Linked DNA regions of Homo sapiens. The protein of the gene in region 3 interacts with the protein of the main gene of each other region in a biochemical or structural test. Each region holds a gene or a part of one and is shown on either strand. Other genes may lie near its edges. The genes, in order: SMAD1, SMAD2, SMURF2 and RNF11.

Region 1 (7,028 bases), on a different chromosome or scaffold from region 3:
AAAAGTAGAGTGTAGAATTAGAATGGTGGTTATCAGGGGCTGCAGGGAGGGGTGAACATGGACAGAGGAAATGCTGGTCAAAGGGTACAAACCTTAAGCTAGAAGTAGTAAGTTTTGGTGATCTATTGCACAGCATGGTGACTATAGTTAATAATACATTGTATATTTCAAAATTGCTAAAAAAGTGGGTTTTTTTTTTTTTTTGATACAGAGTCTCTCTCTTACCCAGGCTGGAGTGCAGCGACATGATGATAGCTCACTACAGGTTTGACCTCCTAGGCTCAAGTGATCCTCCTGATTTAGCTTCTGAATAGGTAGGACTATAGGCACATGCCACCATGCCTCGCTAATTAAAAAAAAAAAAAATTAAGACGGGGTCTTGCTATGTTGCTTAGGCTAGGGGTGGATTTTAAATGTACTCACCAAAAAGAAATTAGTATGGTGAAAAAAAAAAAGGTTCAGCTGGGCTCAGTGGCTCACGCCTATAATCCCAGCACTTTGGGAGGCCAAGGCAGGTGGATCAACTGAGGTCAGGACTTCGAGACCAGCGTGGCCAACATGGTAAAACCCCATCTTTACTAAAAATACAAAAATTAGCTGGGCGTGGTGATGCACGTCTGTAATCCTAGCTACTCGGGAGGCTGAGGCAGGAGAATCTCTTGATCCTGGGAGGCAGAGGTTGCAGTGAGCCGAGATCATGCCACTGCACTCCAGCCTGGTCAACAGAGCGAGACTCTACCTCAAAAAAAAAAAAAAAAAAAAAAAAAGCCAACCAAACAAACAAAAAAATGGTTCAGAGAATAGGCAGTAAAAAAAAGAGAAAAAAAGAAAAAGAAAGAAATAAGCAAATACACATGGGAGGTGACAGATATGTTAATTAGCCTCATTTGATCATTCCACAATGTATACATGTACCAAAACATAACACTGTATTCCACAAATATATACAATTATTTGTCAATTTAAAAATAATAATTAGCTTTTCTAACAAGTTCCAAGGTGGTACTGATGCTACTACTCTGTGGACGACACTTTGAAAACCACTACTCTAAACCTAAATATTCTCAATTTTTGAGTTTTTTTCAAGAGTCATTGAGACCTCAGCAGAAGTCACCAAGTTTGGGAGACTTAAATATGTTAAACTGCTAAACTGTTCTTTGAGATACTTCATCAGAAGTAAAATAGTGACAAAGTTCAAAATAATTCAGTGTTGAGCTGTGTATATGTGCAGCTTAGAATTCCAGACCCCCTTTTTCTGATTTCACAAAAACAATACCCAGGTGTACTCTGTACGGCTTTATAGAGGGCTTCAATTCTGGCAGTGTGAGGGGCTAAGTCACCTTGCACATTTTTATTTTTTTTTTTTGAGATGGAGTTTCACTCTTGTCCCCCAGGCTGGAGTGCAATGGCATGATCTTGGCTCACTACAACCTGCGCCTCTCAGGTTCAAGTGATTTTTCTGCCTCAGCCTCCCGAGTAGCTGGGATTACAGGCGCCCCCCACCTCGCCAGGCTTATTTTTGTATTTTTAGTAGAGATGGGGTTTTACTATGCTGCATTTTTTTAACTTTATTTTTCTGAGACAGAGTCTCACTACACTGCCCAGGCTAGAACGTAATGGCTATTTACAGGCATGATCATAGTGTGCTGCAGCCTTCAACTCTGGGGCTCAAGTGATCCTCCCACCTCAGCCTCCTGAGTAGCTGAGACTACAGGCATGTACCACCACATCTGGCTGCCTCTTGCACTTTGATTTAGTAGAGTTTCTCTTCAGAAGGTACAGGGACTGCTTCATAGTGGTCTCTGGAAAAAGTCCTTTGTTCCAATTCCCACATCAGTCACTTCATAATGTGAAAAATATACATAAAATCTTGATATGTTCAAATTAAATAGATCTTAGCCTCAGCCTCCATGTTTTCCAGAACTGTTCTATTCTATCCATGACTCACAAGATTCCTGGGTAAAGGAGAGGCTGAAATGGCATTTGTGGAGTCTCAAAATGCCTATGTAAGCCAGTTTTCCACCTCTTCCCCATTATTTTATTAGCACATATGTTATTAAGAGTAACAAATTCATCTCAGTATTGGTTTTAACTTTTCACCTTGTATCAGAGGTGTAATAGCCATAAAATGACCAAAGAAGGGAAGAAGATGGTCAAAAGGTATAGATAAACTGAAAATTCAGCACTAAAAAAATGGCCAAATGACGATATTAAATTAAAAATCAGCATCACCATTTAACAGCAAAAATTTATCAAATTATGCTTGTTGCTAAAAATAGAGATGTTAATTATACACATAGTCCCTGCCCTCATGGAGCTTTATTTACTATCTTGCAGAGAAGACCAACAGAACAATCATTATAAGTGTGAAGAACATTCTAAAGAAATTCAGGTTGCTATGGGAAATGAGACCTAACCTCCCCAAGCAGAGTAGGGAGATATGTGTGAAGTAGGAGGTATCAAGAAAGGTTTCCCAATGAAACTGACCTCCATCACACAATTACTTAGTTTATTAAGTAATGACCATGTGCTAGACACAAACGATAAATAAGAGTGGGCTAGACAAAGAGGGAGGAGAAACAGGTACAGATAGAGGAAACGTGCATGGAATGTTTCCAGAGAACTCAAGCACACAAAGCATGCAAGAGTACAAAGGAAGTTGGAAAGGGAGGAAAGGACCAGAATGTGCAGACCTCTCTAGAGGACTTCTCAAGAGTAGGGAAAAGTAGGACAACAAGAGGATCATGTCTGCATCTTAAAAGATCCCTTTCTGTAGACAATGGACTGAAGGGGGTGACCAGTCAGGAGGCAGTTGCTGCATTGCAAGATGAAATGCTGGAAGGTTAGCGCAGGGTGAGGGGGAGTATGGATGGAGAAGACATATTCATAGTGTCTTTTAAATAGTGAATTTTGCCTTTCATGTCAAATGCCTCTATTTTCTAGTTCTAACACAAGGCACTTAACTTGTAGGGGCCTCAGTTTCATCGCATATGGAGTAGAATTAAAATCTTACCTATGTATTAATACATTTTAAGGTTACTACGAGGATCAAAAAAATCATGTGCCTAAATAATATTGCTGGTACATATTACTTATCTACTACATTTTACTCTCCAAAACTCTTAGCTCCATTTCCATTTCTGGCTAGAAGAGGGACATGTACCTCTGTGCTGAGTTTAGAAAAAAGAACACTGCATCACAGCTGATATAACAAGCAGTAAAGAACGTCTATATCCAAACTGGTAAGGAGAATTCAGCACAGTTGTTAGAAAAAAGGCAATGCTCTCTTAACCAAGAGCAACTGTAACAAAATGTAACTTTTAAAAGGATACAATAAAAACCAGTTATCTAGAAATAAATCTAGTAAGTGCAGGAGCTGTATGGAGAAACTTAAAAGTGCACTAAATAATATTATGCTCAAGAGCACAGTAGGCCAATCTTCCCCAAATGAAATCAACGAAATTCCAATAAATTCCCAAAGTGTTTTTCATAGGACTTAACAAGGTAATCCTAAAGTATATAATCTAGAAATCACAAAAACGTAATGTTGGATGAACATAAGTTGTACAAAGAAACTCCAATATTATGTAACATTTTTAAATATATAAAATATTACATATTGTCATGGACTCATACATATGTAATAACAGTATAAAAACATGCATGAGAATGATAAGCGTCAGATTCAGAACAGTGGTTACCAAAGGGAGCAGAATCAGAGGAGCAAAAACAGGGGTTCCAGTTTACACGTAATCTTTTATTTCTTAAAATGAGTAGGGGATACAGAGATGTTTGTTATACTACTGGTCTTTAAAATCTTTTTTTAAAATATGTCTTAAATATTCCACAAAAATACAGAATGCCTTTTATTTGAAAACCATGTTATTACATGATCTAGTTTAGTAATTCCTAAACACCAATCCAATAGCTACATCAGTAACACCTGAAGTACTTGTTAGAAACAAAGATTACCAGGCTATCCCAGGATCAGGATTTCTGGGAGGAGAGCCATGTGATTCTAATATACAGCCTTAGTAACCCAGGAACTATTAACAGCCAATCCATCAACAAAATTGGTCCCAATCGACAATGAGACATTTAAGTGCTTGAATATCTAATCACTTTCCAATGATCCAACTCTCTAGAATGTAGATTCTAACTTGAGGGCAAAACCGTATAAATTTTAAAATATATCCTTTACCATACCCTCCCAAAAGACTATACATGTAAAAACTGGGTATATTTTATAAAGTAATAGCATCAAATGATTCCATAGAAGGATATAATTCCTTCATATTCACCATAGGAAATATGCCACAGCAAAATTCCGCCAGAGATGATAAAAAGTGCTGTTCTTAAGTTCAGAATGGTTTAAGTCACTGGCAACTACCCTCATGATGTACTTCCCTTAAGCATATAGACAGCAATAATGCATTTCTTTCCTAATTTTCTTCCCTTAGAATACAATTCATAGCTAATTTTATCTAGAGAAATGCAGAGAACCATGTGAGACATAAAAAATAAATTTAGAAAGAAAACAATTTATTAAAAATTAGAGGTATTAGTACTGCAATGACAATTGTCATAGCCTGCTCCCAAGACATAATGTTAACTAGAGATGACTAAGCTGTTAAAATGTATGAAACACTCAGGGGCTTTCTCTCTTGCATTCACACAGACACACACACACACACACACACACACACACACACACACACACAGTTTCCCCAAATATTTTTAAATTACAACTAAAAACAAGCAAAGGGATTATTTTCATGTTCTAAACAACACAAATCTGGTACTGGGCACACAAAGCACATCAACATAAAATAACTCACTTACCAGGGCTTTCTACTCTCTTATAGTGGTAGGGATTGATGCAGACCTCCTTCTGCTTGGAACCAAAAGGAAACTCACAGCATTCCAGTGGTTTTAGTTCATGGTGGCTCTGAAGATCGGGCCAGCGCCACACACGGCAGTAAATGACATGAGGCAGTCCCTTCCGGTGGGAGACTTGCAGCCTGCCATCCAGAGAGCGGGGAATGGTGACACAGTTACTCGGTTGCCCTGGGCAGCTCAAGGCCTTTTCCAGTTCCTCCATGGCACCTTTCTTTTTCTTCAGTTTTTTCACCAAAGCATCAACAGCTTTCTCTGCCCATTTTTCTTCTTCATCGCCCTGTTTCCACCCAAGAAGTCTCTTCACAGCTGGACTTGTAAAGGAAAATAAACTTGTCACATTCATAATGACAGCACTAGTTATACTCCTTGGATATGGTGAAATAAAGCTGTCTCCAAATGCAAAAGGACAGCAGAAGAGATTTGTTTATTTACAGAGAAGTCTCTTTAACTTCTTAGTTTGAAGTCCAGAAGAGTAGAAATTACCATTCCTAGTGTTTAAAAAAGTAACCCAGTCAGCACCTACAAAACAAAAAAAGAATGGTTAGAATCATCTTTACCATACAACCACATTTATTAAGTAATCACCATGTGCTAGGTACTATTTTAAGTGCTTTTATGTAATACAGTATGCTGTGGACTGAATTGTGACCCCTAAAATTCATATGCGGAAGCCCTAACTCTCAGTATGACTATATTTGGAGATGGAGCCTCTAAGAAAGTAATTAAAGTTAAGTAAGGTCATCAGGGTGGGGCCCTAACCTGATAGGACTGGTGGTCTTAAGATTGCTATCTCCCTCCTCCAGCCTCTATGCACACACACTGAGGGTACTGCAAGAAGGTGATCATCTGCAAGCCAGGAAGAGAGCCCTCACCAGAGCCTGTATTGTCCAGAACCTTGATCTTGGACTTTCCAGACTCCAGAACAAAGAGAAAATCTATTTCTGTTATTTAAGCCACCCAGTCTATGATATTTTATTATGGCAACCAAAGCAGACTAATATATAGCATTTAATGCTTTTCACAATCCTTTGAGTTAGGTAATACAATTGCTGCCACTTTACAGATGAGTAAACTGAGAAGCAGTTTAAAAAGTAAGCCACTGTTAGCAAAAGCTCTGGGATAAAAGCAACAAAGTTAAAAAGCCCAAGTTCTCAAAAGATATTGTAATATTTTAGATTTAGATTCATTTATAACCTCTAAAAATATATTTCAAAACACCTCAATCAACAAAAACTGAAAGCAACAGGGAGAAAAAAATAGTCTAATATCTCTGTTTTTTTGGTTTGTTCTACAAATATTTCTTAGGCTAAAAGAAAATTCCTCTTATATAAATGTAGTAATATTTTAGGGTATTTCTTCAGTGAACAAGCCTGTGTCTATGGGCTACAGGACAAATAGGATAGGAAATACATCTCCTGCTTTAAAAATGTTGCTATTTATTGACATAAAAGGAATAAAGCACATGGACACATACTGTACCAAATTCTTTAGCCAAGTTGCCTCATTTAAACTGTTTACTCTTTAGCACATGAAAACATAAAATGTGAAAAAGGTTAAGGAGGTTAACTTTGTACAAACCCTGGCTAAACTGGAGTAGCACGTATCAGACCAACCTCCTTCCAAACAAACAAGCCAGAAAACAAACAAACAAAAGCCCAGCTTTTTAAAGGCATCAAAGAGGAACCAAGGCACTCAGGACTTGAGGGGGCCAAGATCCTGGAGAGAGGGGAAATGCAATGAAGTGAGCTGAATATTCGTCACCACTCTTTCCAGGGATTTGCCAATAGCTATGCTATGAGCAGCAAAAGGTCTAGGAGCCGAGCAGAAAGAGGTAACTAAGAGGCTAAAAACTAAGCAGAGCTTCTAGTAGCCTCATAGCGCTGAGGAACCCCAAAATAACAACACAGCAACAAATGGAGTTGAGGGCCTGCTGAGGAGAAACCCTGGTAAATAGTCTAGGCTTTCAATGGAAGCTCCTGGAGGAATATGCCCCAGTCTAAGGGCAAAAATGAAACGGATCAGTCTTTACAACCAATCTAGAATCATCTTAATCCTAGCCTTGGTCTAGGTGATGGGTATTGCTCTCTAACAGCTTGCCAGAAGAAAAACAAATTCTCTGTAGAGGAAGA
Region 2 (7,028 bases), on a different chromosome or scaffold from region 3:
ATAGATGGATATTTGCCATTTTGATTTGTAAATGTTACAGGAAACTACTTGATTTTCCAAAGTCAGATGTACCTGACTCCCAATACTCATAAAAACATACTGCATATTACTGCTTCTGTAATTACAGATTTTACTTTATCTGTGAGTTAAAGAACAGCAGAGTCCACAGTGAATGAAGAAGGGCAGTATCTTTACCAAGTAAAACTGTTCTTAGCAGATCTATAGATACACATGGAATTCTCTCTGTAATTCACTCTTACTTCCACTAAATTCCTACCATATTTTGCATTATTCTAACCTTCTGAAGAACAAAAAAAAGTCTGACCTGAAATCTTATTAGACAATATAATTTAAATCTAATTTTGCTATCAACTCAGGTCAAGTCTAATTTTAAAAAACGGCATTCAGCATTCTTAACAGGTAACAACATCTCAAAAGGGTAATAATCAAAACAGAACTACAGCAAAATCACAAAATGAATTATTCTACCAATATAACTCAGAAAAAAATAGTGACAAGTCTTCATTCTCTGATACAAATATATACCATATATTTTTAAATGTATTCAACAAGTAGACCTCACATTGCACAATCTCAAATCAGATTTCTGACAAAACTTAAGATAGACAAGCAAGTCCAAAACAAATAAATTTGGAAGGGACTAAATTGCTGGAAGAAGCAGGAATACAATCACTATATTACATGAATATTTCTTAAGCAGGCATATGGAGTAAGCAATACGAATTGAAGAAAGACTAAGTATTTTACTTAATTCCTACTCTTAAATATGGTCAAGAAGTCTTCTCTCTCTTTGATGTGAAATCCAATCTATTGTTTAATTCATCAATAATCTAGACTATCTTATCCACTGATGACAAATTAGTTTTTGTAAAACTTAAACATAATTGTTACTACTATCCTTATAAAAGAGGTAAAGAGTCCAGGAGAACTATCTTCCAGTCCCATCTCAACCACTTATAATGTAACCTTGGGCAAATTATCAGCTTTCTATGTCTATTTCCAAATATGTATTAGTTTGAACCATGTGTTACCTGCAACGATGGCAATTTCATATATTTCAACCTTACAAAGAATGAATTGACAACAGAAATAATAATTTTTAGATACTACACTTAAAACAGCACAGTGCCTGGCACATTAGCAAGTATTCCTTCTACTTCTGAATGAAGTTCCTCCTCTTAACCTACATCTAGTTTGTCTCAATTTAATTGTCCAGCCTTATTTTTCTATTCTCCAAACTGAATTGCTATGCTATTGTCAAGATTATCACTTCCCAACTCTGCCCACCCCATTTATGACTATTGAAATCCAATGCACCTTTTACAACTAGATCATGTGCCATCAAGTTTTCCTTGAGCACCGTGTGCAAACATCTCTCCTTCCATAAACTGACATAACCCTTCATATACACCCCTTTTATGATATTTAACACTCTGAATTACGTTAAAATGCACGCCTGTGCATGTTTTAATATCTTCCATAATGGCAGCTCAGTAATTTGCAACAGTTTTGAATTTGGAGGCCTCCAACTTTATTTTACATAAAGATCAGCTGACTCTATAACCTCATTGAAAATAGATACAAATGAACTCCAGAATATGCAAGAATGCAATGAAACATAATTACACTGTGGAAATTTAAGAACCAAATATGTATTTCATACCGGTATTCTGCTCCCCACCCTTTCACAAAACTCATTCTTATGGTGCACATTCTAGTTAGCTGATAGACGGCTTCAAAACCCTGATTAACAGACTGAGCCAGAAGAGCAGCAAATTCCTGGTTGTTGAAGATCTTCAGATTACAGCCTATGATTAAAAAAGGTAAAAGAAATTGTCAAAAGAGTATCATTATTAAAAAGTAATTTTAAAAGGGTTACAAGTTTTAGAATATGAGCATGCAATCATCTACTGATTCCTAAAATTAGCAACAAGAAAAACTAAGCAAGTTGACATGATAGGTTTATGTACATTATTGAATCCATACCTGGTGGAATTTTACACACTGTTGCAGGGTGCCAGCCATATCTCTGATTACAATTGGGGCTCTGCACAAAGATTGCACTATCACTTAGGCACTCAGCAAAAACTTCCCCACCTATGTAGTATAAGCGCACTCCTCTTCCTGAAACAAAATACAAATGAGATTAGTTTTGTAACATTTACTATTTCAGTGTGACTTTGGAAGCATTTTCTTGGAAAAATTCTAAAATGATATAAGGTATTTCCAGGATCTTTTTCACAGATAATGTCTTTCTGAAGTCTAACTTTAAATATACTACTGTATATTTCTCCCAAGTATTTTCTAACAATAATTTTATTGATTTTAAAATACATGTGTACTGACTGAAAGTATTTAAACAATGTAGAAAAAGTACACATAGTAAAATAGTTTCATACAAATGATATATATTAAGATAAGTAAAAGATTGAGTTAATTTTGAAGGAATTCACTAATGTTTGGAGAAATATATCTTCATTACAACTGTAGTTTCTTAGAGATCCCACTTAATGTTAAGAAAAAAGATGTAAAAACATCAAAAAGTCATTTGCCATTTTAAAAACTATATATTATGGTGGAAACCCAACCTCTAGATGTATAAGCATGATTAGGTGAGAAAAAATTCTACTGGGAGATTTTTAATATACTTCTTTCAGAATCTGAGAGATCACAGATGCAAAATAATATGAGATATAAGAATTAAAAAAAAAATTGTGAGAAGCAGAGTTCTAACATGACACCTAAGAGTCTCAGCCCTGAGGTGCACATACATTCTCTGTTAATCAAACACTAGGTGCTGCTGTTAAGGATTTTTTCAGATGTAATTAAGGCAGCAAATCAGTTAACCTTAATCAGGCAATCCTTTAAAAGGGACTAGACTGTCATAGGCTAAGTGATTCAAAGCATGAAAGGTATTCAACACAAGAGACATTCTCCATTGCTGACTTTGAAGATGGATGGCACCATGTGACAAGGAATTCAGGAGGCATCTAGGAGCTGAATTCTGCCACAACCATGTGGGTTTAGAAGAGGACCTCAAGCTCCAGATAAGAACACAAGCCAGCTGATACCTCAATTTTGGCCTTGTTAAACCCTGAAAAGACCGCCTAACCCATGTCTGGACTCCTGACCCACAGAAACCGTGAGGTAAAAAACTGATGTTTTAGGCCACTGAGTTTGTGGTAATTTGTTACACAGCAAAAGAAAACTAATCAAACAACTAACACTCCAGATTTAATACAGAACCTGGTACGGTGGTTCTGTTAAGACTATGGAATATCTGTAAAACAGTCATGCACGTGGTCATTGGGAAAACACTAAGTCCAAAAAGTAGAGATTTTTCAGGCTATATTCCCTGATCAATATCACCTATAAAACTAGAAATAAAAAATTTAAAAAAATCCAATAACGACAGCAATCTAAAACTTTGGAGGGAGAAGAGAATAAGGCAGAGAAAACCCATTAAATTTTTTTGCAGAACCCCAATTAAGTCACAAAAACAAAAAACTATTTTAGTTAAAGCACCTACAGCGACACTGGGTATCTTAATAAGATTATCCAAATTTATACATCAAGCAAGATTTGAGAACTTCCACTTGGAACCAAGTAATAGATCTTCTAGTCACTATCATTTTGCAGTATCAAAATCACACTTTGATAACCAGCATTACTTCTCACAGGAGGTAATGGTTAATTAGAAAAAAAACAGAAGCAAACTACTGTTAAAAGAAGTTACTTTAAGGTGATGAGAATGATGTTCAATTATGAATGGTTCTCACACTTTTTCACTTCATCGTTAAGGAAATACTGAGGACCCCAAAGAGCTTTTGTTTATGTGAATATTATGGAAAATGACCATATTAGATATAAAAACTGAGATTTAAAAAATTCATTTAAAAATCAAATCCATTACATATTAACAATGTTTATAAAAAACAACTGTATTTCCAAAGCAAAAAAAAAAAAAATAGAGTGGCAACATTTCACCATTTTTGTCTATGAAAAACAACTATATTTCCAAAGCAAAAAAAAAAAAAAAAAAAAATAGAGTGGCAACATTTCAACATTCATGTCTAGTGTAACAGAATTGGAGTCTCATTATCAAATCTACATTTCATCTCTTGCAAAATCATATGCATGTAGGCTCTGGAATACTCCACTGTACAGTCATGAGAGTATGAGAGTAGAAATGGCAAACAGCATCTCAGTACTACTATGAAAATAGCTTTGACCTCACAAACTAGCTGAAAGGGTTTCTGGGACTACCAGAAGTCCCCAGACCACATTTTGAGATGTCCCTGAATTATATTTTGAACTATATTAAATGCAGTTCTTGTTTTAGATATCTCATTTCAGATGAACAGCAAGCAGATTTCATTTAATATATAAACTCACCAAAGGGGGAAAAAACCTGGGAGCTATATAAAGAAACTGAAAAAAAACAAAAACAAAACAAAACAAAAAAACATGATTTATAAAAAAGTATTAACCCCCAAATCTGAACATGGCAATTTTATGACTGGTAGAGACTCAGCAAATTAAACTTATCTTAACACATATTTATTGAAGAACTTTCCAGTACCAAGGGTGCCAAATAAAAGTTGAAGAGTTTGCAGCTGAAGCATCACCAGGATCTATTAGAAGCAGTGAAGCCTGTGCACTTAAATGTGTCGGCACTTAAACCACCAGAGAGAAAGCTGGTTTTACTGCACACAAGCTCTTGATGTGGCACACCATGCAATGCCTACATTATGAGTATACAGCATTTATTTTTCACAACAAGGAAAATAAAACATACCTATATGCCTTCTTGTCATTTCTACCGTGGCATTTCGGTTAACATTGGAGAGTAAACCTAAGCAGAACCTCTCTGAATTTGATGGGTCTGTAAAGCCATCTACAGTGAGTGAGGGCTGTGATGCATGGAAGGTTTCTCCAACCCTCTGATTTAATTCATAATATGCTATCGAACACCAAAATGCAGGTTCTGAGTAAGTAACTGGCTGTAAATCTGAAAAAGAAAAAAATAAAAAAATAATAAAAGGAAGAAATGCGTGAACAATTCAAGCCAAAAATAGATTTAATATAATCATCTTTACATGCTCTATGCCAGCCTGCACTGGCAAAAGCTCAGGAAGTAGACATAGTATCTGTATCGGTTTCCACAGATGATACCAGATTTTCAGTATTTTTCACACAAAACTCCAGTTTCATAGATCATACCAGATTTTTTCAAATTTCTCCCATGTCATTAAATCACTTTATGTTGGATTCTTTGTTTTACCAGTAGTTTTAGTCTAGCTCCTGTTCAAATACAAAACAATCATAGGCAAAGTCAGTCAACTTGCCATACTTGGTGCATTTCTAAAGCACATAAAAAAGCTAAAGTGGGGTAAGATAAAGCCAGAGCAAAGATTAATGAGTCAAAAGCCACACAAAGAAAAACAGTAATAATAAAAGGATACAAAATATGACATATTTTTGACATTTGTCTATTTTAACATCAAACTCTTGGTGAGATACCCTAGCTACAAAAAGAGAAAACCCACTCATACATAAGAACCAGAAAGCAGTAACACACAAAGATCATGCAAGTAGAAACAGACCATAGAGTCAAAAGACTACTTATTTCACTGGAAAACTATATATTTAGCTTCTGCAGTTTGACTAAAACATATCATAAGGAATACTGCAAAAGAAAAAAACCTCACAATTTTGTAGAATAAATTCCAAACATGTAACAACCGAAGAGAAATTGTGAAATAGGGTAAAATGAGGGCAAAAATAATAATAGTAATACAGAAATGTATGTATATATATATATATATATATAGTCATCCCTTGGCATTTACAGGGGATTGGTTCTAGGACCGGCTCCCCCTAACTAAAAACCCTTAGATGTTCAAGTCCCTGACATAAAAGGGTGTAGTATTTCCATGTAACTTAAATTCACGTCATCCTGTATACTTTAAATAATCTCTAGATTACTTATAATACCTAATAATATAAATGCTATACAAATATTTGTTATACTGTATTTTAAAATTTGGGCCCAGCACGATGGCTCACGCCTGTAATCCCAGCACTTTAGGAGGTCAAGGTGGGTGATTCGTTTGAGGCCAGGAGTTTGAGACCAGCCTGGGCAACATAGTGAAACCCCATCTCTACTAAAAATACAAAAATTAGCTGGGTGTGGTGGCATGCACCTGTAGTCCCAGCTACTCAGGAGGCTGAGGCAGAGAATTGCTTGAACCCAGGAGGCAGAGGTTGCAGTGAGCCGAGATTGCGCCACTGCACTCTAGCCTGGGCGACAGAGCAAGACTCTGTCTCAAAAAATAAATAAAAATAAATACAATTTGTATTAGTTTTTACTGTCGTATTGTTATTTTCATTTTTTCCCGATTATTTTCAATCTGCAGTTGGTTGAATCTGCAGATGCTGAACTCATGGTTATGAAGGGACCATACACATACACATTTGTACATATATGTGCACACTCTCATATATATATTATATATAGTATATATATATTATTATATATATGTATAATATATATTATATATTATATATTATATATATTATGTATAATATATATTATATATTATATATATTATGTATAATATATATTATGTATGTTATATACATATTATGTATAATATATGTTATATATATTATACATAATATGTATAATATATATTATATATATTATATAATATATATTATATATTATGTATAATATATATAATATATTATATATATTATGTATAATATATATTATATATTATACATAATATATATTATATATTATATATTATGTATAATATATGTTATATATATAATATATATTATGTATAATATATGTTATATATATAATATATATTATGTATAATATATATTATATATTATATATATATTATATATATTATGTATAATATATATTATATATTATATATATATTATATATATTATGTATAATATATATTATATACTATATATATATTATATAT
Region 3 (7,028 bases):
TTCTGGAACTCCCCAGTAGACCATCTGAGTCCCATGAGACTGCAGGCCCTGTGTTTTCTCCATCTCTCTCTTTAAGTACATTATTGCCTCTGCTTTACATTGTCAGGAACAGTTTTGAGATTTAAATGATATATAACCTGAACTGAATACTGGTTCTCTTTGCTTCCATTTGTTATGCCTTTTTTCCTTGTTAAATGAATGTGTATGCATGCATGTGTGTATACACATGTACATATCATGATGGTCCTCAGAATGTTTCAGTACAGAAGGTAGAATGCTTCTGCTACATTTGTAACTCACAGGTCAAGTCAAATTAATTTTCTTTCTTTTTTTTTTTTTTTTTTTTTTTGGAGACAGGGTCTCCCTCTGTCACCCAGGCTGGAGTGTAGTGGCGTGATCTCAGCTCACTGCAACCTCCCCATCCTGGGCTCAAGAGAGCCTCCCACCTCAGCCTCCTGAGTAGCTGGGACTACAGGTACAAGCCACCACACCCGGCTAGTTTTTGTTTTTTTTTTTTTGTAGAGATGGGGTTTTGCCATGTTGCCCAGGCTATTCTCGAACTTCTGAGCTCAAACAATCTGCCTGCCCCAGCCTTCCGAAGTGCTGGGATTACAGGTGTGAGCCACCACACCCAGCCAGTGATTTATTTCTGATATTATATTTACTACAAGAATTCTTTTCTATGTGTGAAAATTCGTTTTATATAAATGGAGAAACACTGTAGCTCTGTATTGAAATGTTCCAAGGATCATTGTGGTAATTCTGCTTTCCCTAATCTTAAATCCAACCAAAATTATGTTTTCAATAATTCCCATTAATTGTTATTTAGCATTACATGTGTGTATTTGTAGCCTTATTTTCATTCTGTCACCTTTTAAACCTACGGATGGATAGTTTCTTTAGTGTGGATTTTTAAAAATAATCCCTTGTACATCATACTTAGGACTTGACAGTTTCTGTGGAATTTGTATTACTTACTCATAACTAGAGTGAATGTTTATTGGGAACACTTCATCATCAACTACTGGTGGCATCTAAGTACTATAATTATATGTATAGATCAAATAAGTAGTTTATTTTATTTATTTAGTTTTTTAGAGACGGGGTCTCACTCTGTCACCCAGGCTCCATGGAGTGCAGTGGTGTGATCATGGCTCACTGCAGCTTCGAACTCCTAGGTACAAGTGATCCTCCTGCCTCAGCCTCCTAAAGAGCTAGGACTATAGGCACATGCTTCCATGCCTAATTAAAAAAAAAAAAATTTGGCCAGGTGCAGTGGCTCACACCTGTAATCCCAGCACTTTGGGAGACTGAGGTGGGCAGATCACGAGGTCAAGAGATTGAGACCATCCTGGCCAACATGATGAAACCCCGTCTCTACTAAAAACTAAAAAAAAAAGATTAGCTGGGTATGGTGGCGCACACCTGTAGTCCCAGCTATTCGGGAGGCTGAGGCAGGGGAATCACTTGAACCCAGGAGGCAAAGGTTGCACTGAGCCGAGATCGTGCTACTGCACTCCAGCCTGGTGACAGAGTGTGACTCCGTCTCAAAAAAAAAAAAATTTTTTTTTTTTTGGTAGAAACAGGATCTTGTGTTGCCCAGGCTGGTCTCAAACTCCTGGCCTCAAGTGATCCTCCAGCCTCCGCCTCCCTAAGTGCTGGAATTACAGGCGCGAGCCACCATGCCTGGCTCGTAGTCAGTTTTTTTTGTTGTTGTTGTTTTTGAGATGGAATCTCACTCTGTCGCCAGGCTGGAGTGCAGTGGCGCAATCTCGGCTCCCTGCAACCTCTGCCTCCTGGGTTCAAGCGATTCTCCAGCCTCAGTCTCCCGGGTAGCTGGACTACAGGCGCATACAACCACGCCTAGCTAATTTTTGTATTTTTAATAGAGACGGGGTTTCACCATGTTGGCCATGCTGGTCTCAATCTCCTGACCTTGTGATCTGCCCGCCTTAGCCTCCCAAAGTGCTGGGATTACAGTCATGAGCCACCGAACCCAGCCCAGTTTTTTGTTTTTTAACCTTACTACTGTCAGGGTTTGAGCAGAATAAATGGAATGTGACAGTGATCTGCTTTTTCTGAACTTTATTCCATAGTAGAATCTCAAAGTAGTTGAGTTCTGCTCTTATTTGTGTTCTAAATACTTGGTAAAACAAAACAAAAATTTGGATTTTCTTTTTAAAAAACACATACACACACCAAAAACACAAGACACATCAGATGAGTGTTATGTTGGGAAGGCTGCTTATGTGGAGACGTTACTTCTTTTTTTAATCTCTAGAGTAGTTTTTCAAATGTTACATAATGGTAGTAATTTAATTTAGACTCCATCACATAGAATTTTGAAACAGTTTCCTTTAACTAGTTTTAATACTATTCTGCATTTGCTCAAAAATATTATTCAATCTGTTTAATCCATAATATCAAAATATATCATTTAAATAACCTTCCCTAGCCAAGGAATGACAAGAATTAAGACTAGAACTACATCTCTTAAGTCCTAGACTAGTGAATTTCCAAAGTGAGTAACAAATTATCTTTTATACTTTGAAAAATTTGAAGGTTTTAATAAATTCAAGGTGGAAGTACTTTTTATTCCAGGTTTTAAAAACATTGATTTACATTGAAGTCAAGAAGTGGTATGGAACATACCCAAAGAATGCACGTTTGCCCTTGAGTCCATACCTACACCAAATGCCTTGCAATCCTTGCCCACTTATATTTTTATCATGGTATGTTTCAGGGTTTATACAGTGAATGATAATGAAATGAATAATGAAATGTCCTTAATACTACAACAAAATATAGCCTTGTCCAAAATGAAGAGTAAATCAATACTATATTATATGTCTGTATAAACTGGTCGTGATAGGAGTAGACCAGGATAATAGAGATGACGTGGACTTTTTTTTTTTTTCTTTGAGACAGGGTCTCTGTCACCCAGCCTGGGGTGCAGTGGTGCAATCTCAGCTCACTGCAGCCTCAACCTCCAGGGCTCAAGCAATCCTCCCACCTCTGCCTCCCAAGTAGCTGGGACTATAGGCACTTGCCATCAACCTGGCTAATTTTTGTATTTTTTGTAGAGATGGGATTTCGCCTTGTTGCCCAGGCTGGTCACAAACTCCTGAGCACAAGCGAACCACCTGTCTTGGCCCCCCAAAGTGCTGGGATTACAGGTGTGAGCCACCGTCCCCAGCCTCACATGGACATTTTGAAATAAAACCATATTCTTCCTTTTGTTTTATGTTTATTATGGATTACAAATTTATTTGGCAATTAAAAGTAACAGACCACTGGACCGTATCATCTCGTGAGTAGCTGAACTGTTGGATAATACTTTTATACTCTTTGATGCTAAAATATAATAAAATTGCCTAAATTTTGCGTGAGATGTTACTTCAATATAATAGAGTTTTTATATGCTATTTGGGTACGGTAGATTTTTCCAATGTGATCTTATATAACTGTAGTTAGTGCTTTTTTGCCTTTTATTAATTTAAATAATTATTTGCTAAAATGATTAGTTAATGACATATCTTAATAAAAATGTATACATTAACAAAAAAATTCCTTGGTCATATCTTGTTTTCTAGGGAATGGTTGTATCTCTTGTCACATGAAATGTTGAATCCATACTATGGCCTCTTCCAGTATTCAAGAGATGATATTTATACATTGCAGATCAATCCTGATTCTGCAGTTAATCCGGTATGATTTGAAGTTATGATGTGAATTGTGACCAATAATGCTTTTCATGTTTACATGTTAATGTAGTTTATTATATAGAAATTATTTGTCCTTGTCTTAGTTGTGCCCTTTGACTCAGCAATTCCCCTTCTATAAAATTTTCCCAAGCAGATGATTATGGATATATGCACCAATTTGGAAACAGGGATGTTTATTGTTTATAGTAGCACTCAACTGAAAACAACATAGTTGTCTTCAGGAGCGGGGACTGATTAAATTATGACATGAAGCAGAATAATGCAAATGATTAAAGGCATAGGTTCTGGAATTAGAAAGACGTGTCGTGGTCTCATCACTTACTAGCTTTGTGACCTTTCAGGGCAAGTTCATGGACTTAAGCTTCAGTTTTGTCATTGCTAATAAATACATTTGTACCTCAAAGAGGGGTTATGAGAATGAAATGGGACCCTGCACATTAAGCACTTAGCACAGTGCTGTATGTTATTCACTCTACAACTCTATCAACTACATTACTAAGCACTCAACAGAAGTTAGCAGTTATTACTAATGTATTGTTTTTATATTGTCTTTCCATATAAGGGCATACTATACAGCCACTAAAATGATAATGTGGGATAATAGTTAATGATATGGAAAGATGGTGTTTATGATGTGTTAAGTGAAACGAAGGTTATCAAATAGTATAATGCAACTTTGGTAAATATATATGTTTGTGTGCGTGCGCGTGTGTTACTTTTAAAAAAGAAACAAAAACAAGATAAAAGGTTTAAAGACGAGCTTAAAAGATTACTTAGTAAATAGAGAGGTAAAAGAATTTAAAAATACAAACATCTAACAAAACAATCTGTGACGAAAGACCAAATATATATAAAAGGGTAGAAATGTTAGATTTGTTTCAAGAAGTTATTTAGGGAGGATTTTGAGGTGAAGGTTCTTTTTGGAGGGCCCACTACTGCCCCTGTAGTAACAATAGCCCAGACTCATTGACTGCTTATAACATGCCAGGTCCAGTTCCATGGGTTTCAAACATCACCTCATTTTACTCCTCATAGAGATGCTTTTTAGATACTGTTATTATCCTCATATTTCCAGATGTGGACAGTTAGTCTTACGGGGGTTAATTTGTCCATATGCCATTGACTGGCAGAATCGTGATTCTAATTCAAGTCTGACACCAAGTCTGTGCTCTTAAATCTATGGTGTTTTGATGTTTAATTTCTGGTTAGGTCAAGGAAGTAGGGAGGTTTAGGATTGAAAGATTTTTTTTCATGACAAAGGGCTCAGCAGGAGGTGAGAGAAGGAAGAGAAAAGGATCTGCAAGTAGTTGAATGAAGCTCCGGGACCATAGTTTGGACTTAATTTCTAAAAGATAAAATTTACAAAATGACTGGCCCCTGCGAGAAGGGCATATTACCCTGTGTAATATGCTGTTCTCTGGTGATCTAGAGACTCTGGAGCATGCCCTAGAGAAATACTCCCTCCTGACTCTATTGAAGAGTAAAAATTTTATGCTTATTCTCAAAAAGATTAATGTTGCTGAAATATTTCATTTTTATTAAAATTTTCCTGGGTAGTGCCTAACGAGTATATATACTGTTTTCAATTTCAGGAACATTTATCCTATTTCCACTTTGTTGGACGAATAATGGGAATGGCTGTGTTTCATGGACATTATATTGATGGTGGTTTCACATTGCCTTTTTATAAGCAATTGCTTGGGAAGTCAATTACCTTGGATGACATGGAGTTAGTAGATCCGGATCTTCACAACAGTTTAGTGTGGATACTGTATGTATTGAGTCTTCTATCTCTTCATTATAAACTCTGAGCTTTAAAAAAAAATATGTTTCAAAACTGATGTACTTAAAAAAATTACACAGAAAATATTGAGTGGTTATTTGAGTGATAGGATCGCATATGATTTCCCCCTTTCCTGTAGCTTCTTTATACATTTCAAATTCCTTAAACTTAGCAAGTGTTACTACTTTAAAAAGGAAAAAACAACTAGTATATTTCTATTTTTAAAAGTACTTTATATAATTGTTTCCTCAATGTGATACAAATTCTGTTCCAAACCTGCGTGTGTTAGAATAGCAAATTCTTGGCTGCTGTTGCTTTTAATGAAGTGGCGATTGTTGGAACCGTACTTTTAGAATAAGAACTAATTGTTGAATTTAAGCTAAGAACTGATTCTGTTTTGCAAGAGGTCATTATTTTGTGAAGATACACTGGCAATGTTTATTTTTTATAAAGTATACAGTAGCTTTCTCACTAGGGATACACAGGCACTTGGCCCCTTGGAGTACAGTACCGAGTAGGGCTCTTCAGAATGCCAAATGTAACTGAAATTGTCCTATATTGGTGGTTCTAGCAAGGCCCAGCTTTGACCAAGGCTCTTTCTCATTACTCAGGAAGTTAAATGTTTTCTGTGTTTATGAAGGTTAAAGCTCTTTGACTTTTCTGTCCAGAAAGAACTAGGTGGTATGGAAGCAGAATCTGACCTCACATTTGTTATATTATAAAATGATCTTAGTTTTATCTCACCAATTAATACATCTATAGGGTCTGTATTTTAGGTTTCCCAGTTACATATCTTTTCCTCTTTCCTATCCAGTGAGAATGATATTACAGGTGTTTTGGACCATACCTTCTGTGTTGAACATAATGCATATGGTGAAATTATTCAGCATGAACTTAAACCAAATGGCAAAAGTATCCCTGTTAATGAAGAAAATAAAAAAGAATATGTCAGGTAAACACTCCTGTGTTCTCAAGGCTGAATTTTTTAAAATGTTCTAGAATGTTAGTATGAACAAACTTAAATATTTAGATAGTACTACTTAGTGTTACAAAATCCGCTTCAGGAGAATTTAGTGGCTTATTTAGAACAGACATTTTATTATTTCTCACAATTCCATGGGTCAGGAAATTGGGCAAAAGAACAACATGGATGACAACACTGGTGTTCCACAAGATGTCAGCTAGGCCTGCAACACCAAGATGGCCTCTTCACTCATAACTAGGATAACTCAAATGGCTGAGGGCTAGCTGGCATGGCTGTTGACTGGGGTCACTGTCTGGGGCCTTGTTCTCATTGTTGGCTGAGTTCCTTGGTTCTCCCTATGTGATATCAAAGGCCATTCCCTCTCTCCATGACCACTCCCTCTCCCCATAGCCACTCCCTCCCCCCATAGCCACTCTCTCTCCCAACAAGATAGCCAGACTTCTTATGGGGTGGCCAGCTTTCTAAAGCTCAAAAGCAGAAGCTGCTAGATCTTTTTAAGGCCTAAGCCTGGTCCTGGCCAACATGACTTCTGCTG
Region 4 (6,979 bases), on a different chromosome or scaffold from region 3:
TGGAAAAGGCAAACACAGTTTCCATAAATTCTAGTACCTTTAATAGTACAATTATCATAAGGATAGGAGAAAGAGAACAAGTCAAAGATATTCAATTAAGAAAGGGGATAGGAGGCAGGAGAATTTGCTTGAGGCCAGGAGTTCAAGACCAGCCTAGGCAACATAGGAGTCCCTGTCTCTATTTTTTTAAAAATAGAAGGGGGTGAGGGTAGGGAGCATAAGAGATTTTAAAATAAAAACTTCATGCCAGATGCGGTGGCTCATGCCTGTAATCCTAGCACTTTGGGAGACTGAGGTGGGTGGACTGCTTGAGGTCAGGAGTTCAAGACCAGCCTGACCAACATGGTGAAACCCCGTCTTTACTAAAAATACAAAAATTAGCTAGGTGTGGTGGCACGCGCCTGTAATCCCAGCTACTCAGGAGGCTGAGGCAGGAGAATCGCTAGAACCCGGGAGGTGGAGGTTGCAGTAAGCAGTGAGATTGTGCCACTGCACTCCAGCCGGGGTGACAGAGCGAGACTCCATCTCATTAAAAAAAAAAAGTTAAATAAGCACTTTTGTTGTATAGTAAACATAGGAGGGAAAGACAGTGAAGGATAAACATAGCTTGCTTGCTTCACTCAAAGGTACTTGTAAAGACACCCAGATTCAGCTTTGATTTTTAAGAGACTACCCTGTGACAACTTACTTTGGAAAAAATATTTGTGTAAATACAGAAAATACTAAATTCAACTTCATTAATTAATTCAGCATTTAGGTGCTTATGTGCCAGAAACTGAGCGAGGGGAGAGTCCCTGTTCTCAAGGGCTTTTACTCGTAATTTATCTCCCAGTTACTGAGTCCCTACTGAGGCAGATGCGAGGGATACAACAGCAAACCGGAAACACAGATTCTCTACCTTCACGCAGCTTGCACTGAAGGAGGCGATTACAAGGATGAGACACACATCTAACAAAGATACAACACTAAAGTGTTATAGATATTGCTTATGGAAGTGTAGAGGTTTCAGTGGGGACACAAGGGATTCGGGCTGGGAAGGAAGGGAATGCTGGGACTTCAGACATGAAAGCTGAGTTCTCAAAGAGGATTAGATGTCCACCTGGCTGACCCGGGCGAAGGGCTCCAAGCAGAGAGGAACTGGAGCAAAACAAAGCTGTGAACAGCCTGGTGTATTTGGTAGGCCTGGAATATAGAACGTAAGAGGGAGAAGTCATGGAGGCTTCTGTAATACCACAATCAAGACTGGACCTTACTGGTATATATGAAATGCCCCCAGAAGAATTTTATTCAGAAAACGAGCATATATATGATCAGGTTTTTCTGGTGTGATGAGACATTGGTTTACACAGGAATGAGAAAAGAAAACACTAGATAATGATGTCATCACATGAAACAACAAAGGAGCCTACCCAGTCAGAAAACTAAACTCTTCAGGAAGAAATTAAGCACTACTACTATTGAAGCCCTCTGGAAAAGGGTGTATTCAATATCATCTAAAATGGAAAAAGTACAGGAAAGGTTTTCACACATCTATTGTGGATTATAACATCCACATACCTATTTTGAGTTTAAGAGGTCTTCACTCGAATTCTGCAACACATCTGGGACTACTGATTATTGTACAAAAAGCAGTACAACGTATTTAGGAGAGTCTTTGATACAAAGGGAGAACACGAGTAACCGAAGGAATTTCCCAAGCCAGGTTTAAAGGTTTCCAAAGTTCAAGCTAATCAAGTTTTCTTAAGTCAGCACGTTTAAAAGGTGTGTCATATGGGTGGAGCAAAAAGAGGAGGGATTAAAATTTATATACATATATATATATATATATATACACATATATATATATATACACACACACACAAGTAACTCGATGTCGCTAGGGTTAAAATCACCACTTGGAGATCCGTCTCCCAAGCAGAGGGAAAACCTGCCAGATCCAATTAACAAAAAGACGAGGGAGGTGGGTAAGAGGACGACCACACATGAAAACATAAATGGGGCGGGGGGGTGGTGCTTGGCAACCACCTATCCAGAACCCATAATCCAGTTGGCGGTGCGATGAGGAAATCATACGATTCAGACATAAAGACAGGAAAATGTCACTCCCAAACTCCACAAGCGAACCACCAGACACTGGCCAAGGGGATGTGATCACATACTCTGATCCCAGAACTCAAGGGCAGAGGGTATCATCCCCACACGGTGCCCGAGGGCAGGCGAAGAATCAACCTTACTCTGAGATCAGAGAGCAAATGCCCTCAGATCCAGCCCTAAGGGGTCAATGCCGCCCAGGCCAGGCCTTGCCGAAGCCAGGGGCAGAGACGGCCCCGAAGCCCCCTCAATCTCCGCCAGAGCTGCCTCTACTCGCTCCCCCCAACACACACCCTCCCCTACCTGATATGGCGGCGGCGGCTCCTGATCCGGCTCCGTCCCCTCGCCAAAGCTAGCCCGGTCGGACTGAGACTCGTGAAGCAGGGAGATGTCATCCGAGGTGGGGGATTTGAGGCAGTTCCCCATCTTCCGGAGCTGGGGTGCGTGATCTGGGGGAGGAGAAAGCAGCGGTGGGGTCGTTCGCACACTCCGCGGTCCGCCTCGGTTGGCGAGGTGGGGTCGGGCGACAGGCCGGGGATCAGGCGGAGGCGACTCCACCGCCCCACGGTGCCGCCGAGGGGCCGCTCATGCCAGCCCCCGGGGTTGGGGGATCAAGGCTGGGCCGCGGGCTCCGCTGGGGTCGCGGCGTTCGCCTCCTGCGAGGCAGCGATGGGGGGGGGGGGGCGGGGAGACGAAGCACTTCCCCACCCCGCCCCCCCGCGGGGCGGCGGCGGCCACGGAGCTGCTGGGCCTAATCCAGGTCAGCGGGGGGGGGCGCGGCCGTCGCGGCTGCCTCAGCTGCTGCCTCAGCTGCTGCTGCCCCCGCCGACGCCGGAGCCACGGCCGCGGGCCTCATCCTACTCCGCCTCAGCGAGACGGCGGCAGCCAGAACGAGGCCGGCTCGGGCACTGCGTCATCGCGCCGTGCGTGCTCTGGTCCCGCCCCCGGCGCCAGGAGGCGAGGGCGGCTCCGGCGGCGCCCATCCCCCTCTCCACTAGCAGCTGTTCTCGGTGCTGCGTCAATTTTTGCTTCTCTCTGACTGCTTGGCTCCGTACCTGGCTCCGAAACCAATCTCCCGTCTCCCGCGCCTCCCCACATTCATTGCTCCTGCCCCGTCTAGGGCTCAGTTCTTACCTGTGCACTGCCTGACAGTCTTCTCACCACCCTCCGCCAAGCGGTCTATTTATATAAACCCATATCGGAATGGATCAGTCCCATGATTAAAATGTTAAAAGCTTCCCCTTTATCCCTTCACAATAAAGTCCTAGCTCGTTACTGAACCATCCCTGCCTGTCCAATCACGTCCTTATCCTTCCACATCACAGCCAGAGAGATTATTCTTCCAGTTGTATATCAGATTGTTCATTTCTTTCCAGTCCCAGCACCAAAGTCCAAGCCACCATCATCTCTCACCTTGGCTTCTGCAATAGACTCTCAGCTGTTCCTGAGTTCATCATTGCCCACATCCAATTCACTGTTGGCACAGTTGACAGAGTTATCTTTTTAAAATTTAAATCGGATCATGTCATTCTCCTGTTAAAACCTTCAGTGTCTCCTCAAGGCTGTCCTTAAGACAATCCTTAAATGGTTTACAAATCTGACTCCCTTTCAATCTCATTAGCAGCATTGTCACCTCCTTCACAAATTCTAAACTAGACTCTCTAAAATGCTTTTCGTTATCTGGAATACTATTGCCTCTGCCTGGGGCCTTTGTCCATATTGTTTCTCTCACAGAAACCCACTTCCCTCCACTCCCAACCTTTCTGCTTCTCATCAGGCTAATCATTATTCTCAGGAATCCTTCTGGATGCAACTTCATTTCCCCTGGGGAGACTCTCCTGACCCTCCAGTCTGGGTTAGTCGCATCCTGTGTGCTCTCAGACCCTGAGCTTTTCTCTGTCACAGCCTGATCAAGCTGAATCATCTGTCCCTCTGTGCAAGGCTGGCACACTGCCCAAGGTAGAGTATGCTCTCTCCTTGGTTGAATGAGCAGCTCAAACAACATATGCAAAAGAAGGAAGCAAGAAGGATGACAGTGCTCCTGATAGACGTTCATTCAACAGGTGGATCTTGACTGCCTTTCGTTTCATTCACCATTTACTGAAGTTGTGTGTGCGTGTGTATACCAGACCCCACGCTAAGGACTGGGGAAAAGGATGATCATACCTGGCTTGTTCCTGATAGAGCCCAGAGACCACCTGGGAAGACAAGTAATCAGGTGAGTCCTAAGCCCACACCCTGCCACGGACCCCAAGGTTTTTAGAGGAACTGAAAGACAGCAATTAGTTCATTTGAGTGAGGAACAGAAAGGATTCTTAGAGGTAGGGCTATATTAAACTCGAATGGGTCTGAACACTCTTACTCTGCAGTCCCTATTCTACGAAGTCACTATCTTATTTAAATGCACTCAAATTCCACATTAAATATCACCTTTTTGATATAAAATTTTTGAAAAGACTCATAATTTTGGGCCAGGCGTGGTGGCTTACGTCTGTAATCCCAGCAATTTGGGAGGTCAAGGCGGGTGGATCACTTGAGGTCAGGGATTCGAGAGTAGCCTGGCCAACATGGTGAAACCCCATCTCTACTAAAAATACAAAAACTAGCCAGGTGTGCTGGTGCACGCCTGTAGTCCCAGCTACTCGGGAGGGTGAGGCAGGAAAACCGCTTGAACCTGGGAGGTGGAAGTTGCAGCGCAGTGAGCCCAGATTGTGCCACTGCACTCTAGCGTGGGCGAGGGAGTGAGTAAGACTCAGTCTCAAAAAAAAAAGGAAGGAGAAAGAGAGAGAGAGAGAAGGGAGGCAGGAAGGAAGGAAAGAAGGAAGGGAGAGAAAGAGAAAGAGAAAAGAGAAAGAAAAGAAAGAAAGAAAGAAAAGAAAGAAAGAAAGAAAGAAAGAAAAAGAAAAAGAAAGGAAAGAAGGAAAGAAAGAACAAACTGACTCACAATTTTGGTTTTGGAATTGTTGAGCTTCCAAGAACTCATTTAATTTATGATTGGCTAAATTTACCAGAAATCAGAGGTACCCTGGAATTTTTACAAAGTGAGAAAATTTACCCCACAAATTATTGTCAAACCTAAAGAAATTTTTATTAATAATAATTTATACAATTATTTGACATAATATTTACACAGTGCTAGAATTTGTAGACATTGTTTGTTTGTTTTGGAGACAGGGTCTCACTCTGTCACCCAGGCTGGCTTGATCGAGGCTCACTGCAGCTTCAACCTCCTGGGCTCAGGTGATCCTCCTGCTTCAGGCCTCTCCAGTAACTAGAACTACAGATGCACACCACCATGCCTTGCATTTGTTTTTGTTTTTGGTAGAGACGAAGTCTTGCCATGTTGCCCAGGCTGGTCTCAAACTCCTGGGCGCAAGCGATCCTCCCGCCTCAGCCTCCCAAAGTGCTGGAATTACAGGTGTGAGCCACTGTATGCCTGGCCAGACATAGATTTATTTAGTTAGTTTTAATTTTTTTTAATTTTTATTTTTTGAGACAGAGTTTTGCTTGTGTTGCCCAGGCTAGAGTGCAATGGTGCGATCTTGGCTTACCGCAACCTCTACTTCCCCGGTTCAAGCAATTCTCCTGCCTCAGCCTCCTGAATAGCTGGGATTACAGGCGCGCACCACCACGCCCAACTAATTTTTTGTATTTTTAGTAAAGACGGGGTTTCACTATGTTGGCCAGGCTGGTCTCGAACTCCTGACCTCAGGTGATCCACCCACCTTGGCCTCTCAAAGTGCTGGGATTATAGGCGTGAGCCAGCTCGCCAGGCCAGATTTATTTTTTTAAGTTTTGTTTTTCATTCTTTTTTTCCACAGGTGGGTAACACTGACACAAGCCCTTGAAAAGTTCTATAGTGCCTTGTGAAAATAAGTTATATTGTTAAGTTTAAAACTAGCTTGGGCTGGGTGCAGTGGCTTACGCCTGTAATCTCAGCACTTTGGGAGGCCGAGGCGGGTGGATCACGAGGTCAGGAGTTCAAAACCAGCCTGGCCAATGTGGCGAAACCCCATCTCTACTAAAAATACAAAAATTAGCCGGGCATGGTGGCATGCACCTGTAATCCCAGCTCCTCAGGAGGCTGAGGCAGGAGAATCACTTGAACCTGAGAGGCGGAGGTTGCAGTGAGCCGAGATCACGCCATTGCACTCCAGCCTGGATAACAGAGTGAGACTCCGTCTCAGTAAACAAACAAACAAACAAGGCTAGTTGTTCACCAGAAGATGGGAGGAGCATTTGAAGCCCATTAATGGCTTGGACATGGTCCCTGCCTTCAAATAGCTCAAACTCAAGTAGATGAGACAAGTAGGTGAACAGTTAGCAGGGCTACATTCAGACCTTTATATTTGTTCTACTTTTATTTTTAACTTTTGCTTCCATGAGCATATATATATCACTACCTCACAAAGGTACAGCTTTAGACCTCTGTGTCTGGTGAGAGAATAACTGTTGCATATTCCCCTGAGCTCAGAGGAAATGATATTTTAGAAAAGATGAATGGTTATTGACCATTATTTTTTTGTGGATGAGTAAAATATCAGCTACAATTTTAACATAGTTTAAAAAAACGATAGAATTTTGTTTTGTTTTGTTTTTGTTTTTTTTGAAACGGAGTCTCACTCTATCACACAGGCTGCAGTGCAGTGGCACAATTGGCTCACTGCAACCTCCACCTCCTGGGTTCAAGTGATTCTCGTGCCTCAGCCTCCTGAATAGCTGGAATTATAGCCGGGGTCCACCATGCCCAGTTAACTTTTTGTATTTTTAATCAAGATGGTGTTTCACCATGTTGGTCAGGCTGGTCTCGAACTCCTGACCTCAAATGATCCACCTGCCTTGGCCTCCCAAAGTTCAGGGATTTCAGGCATGAGCCACCATGCCCGGC

What was found.
Region 1: the proteins of SMURF2 (region 3) and SMAD1 form a complex in vitro, tested with the Homo sapiens proteins (2 studies listed by BioGRID and IntAct, with this or other methods).
Region 2: the proteins of SMURF2 (region 3) and SMAD2 form a complex in vitro, tested with the Homo sapiens proteins (3 studies listed by BioGRID and IntAct, with this or other methods).
Region 4: the proteins of SMURF2 (region 3) and RNF11 form a complex in vitro, tested with the Homo sapiens proteins (3 studies listed by BioGRID and IntAct, with this or other methods).

The regions. Positions count from the first base shown.
Region 1 is NC_000004.12:145,512,828-145,519,855, reverse strand, and holds part of SMAD1 (mothers against decapentaplegic homolog 1), read right to left. Parts: exon of another isoform or gene 6,374-7,028; intron 5,419-6,373; 5' UTR 5,243-5,418; coding exon 4,843-5,242; intron 2,843-4,842; exon of another isoform or gene 2,662-2,842; intron 1-2,661. UniProt on the Homo sapiens protein: Transcriptional modulator that plays a role in various cellular processes, including embryonic development, cell differentiation, and tissue homeostasis.
Region 2 is NC_000018.10:47,843,656-47,850,683, forward strand, and holds part of SMAD2 (mothers against decapentaplegic homolog 2), read right to left. Parts: intron 5,033-7,028; coding exon 4,820-5,032; intron 2,146-4,819; coding exon 2,008-2,145; intron 1,830-2,007; coding exon 1,685-1,829; intron 1-1,684. UniProt on the Homo sapiens protein: Receptor-regulated SMAD (R-SMAD) that is an intracellular signal transducer and transcriptional modulator activated by TGF-beta (transforming growth factor) and activin type 1 receptor kinases.
Region 3 is NC_000017.11:64,554,288-64,561,315, reverse strand, and holds part of SMURF2 (E3 ubiquitin-protein ligase SMURF2), read left to right. Parts: intron 1-3,593; coding exon 3,594-3,708; intron 3,709-5,317; coding exon 5,318-5,496; intron 5,497-6,322; coding exon 6,323-6,460; intron 6,461-7,028. UniProt on the Homo sapiens protein: E3 ubiquitin-protein ligase which accepts ubiquitin from an E2 ubiquitin-conjugating enzyme in the form of a thioester and then directly transfers the ubiquitin to targeted substrates.
Region 4 is NC_000001.11:51,232,295-51,239,273, reverse strand, and holds the start of RNF11 (RING finger protein 11), read right to left. Parts: upstream 3,002-6,979; 5' UTR 2,518-3,001; coding exon 2,395-2,517; intron 1-2,394. UniProt on the Homo sapiens protein: Essential component of a ubiquitin-editing protein complex, comprising also TNFAIP3, ITCH and TAX1BP1, that ensures the transient nature of inflammatory signaling pathways. Promotes the association of TNFAIP3 to RIPK1 after TNF stimulation.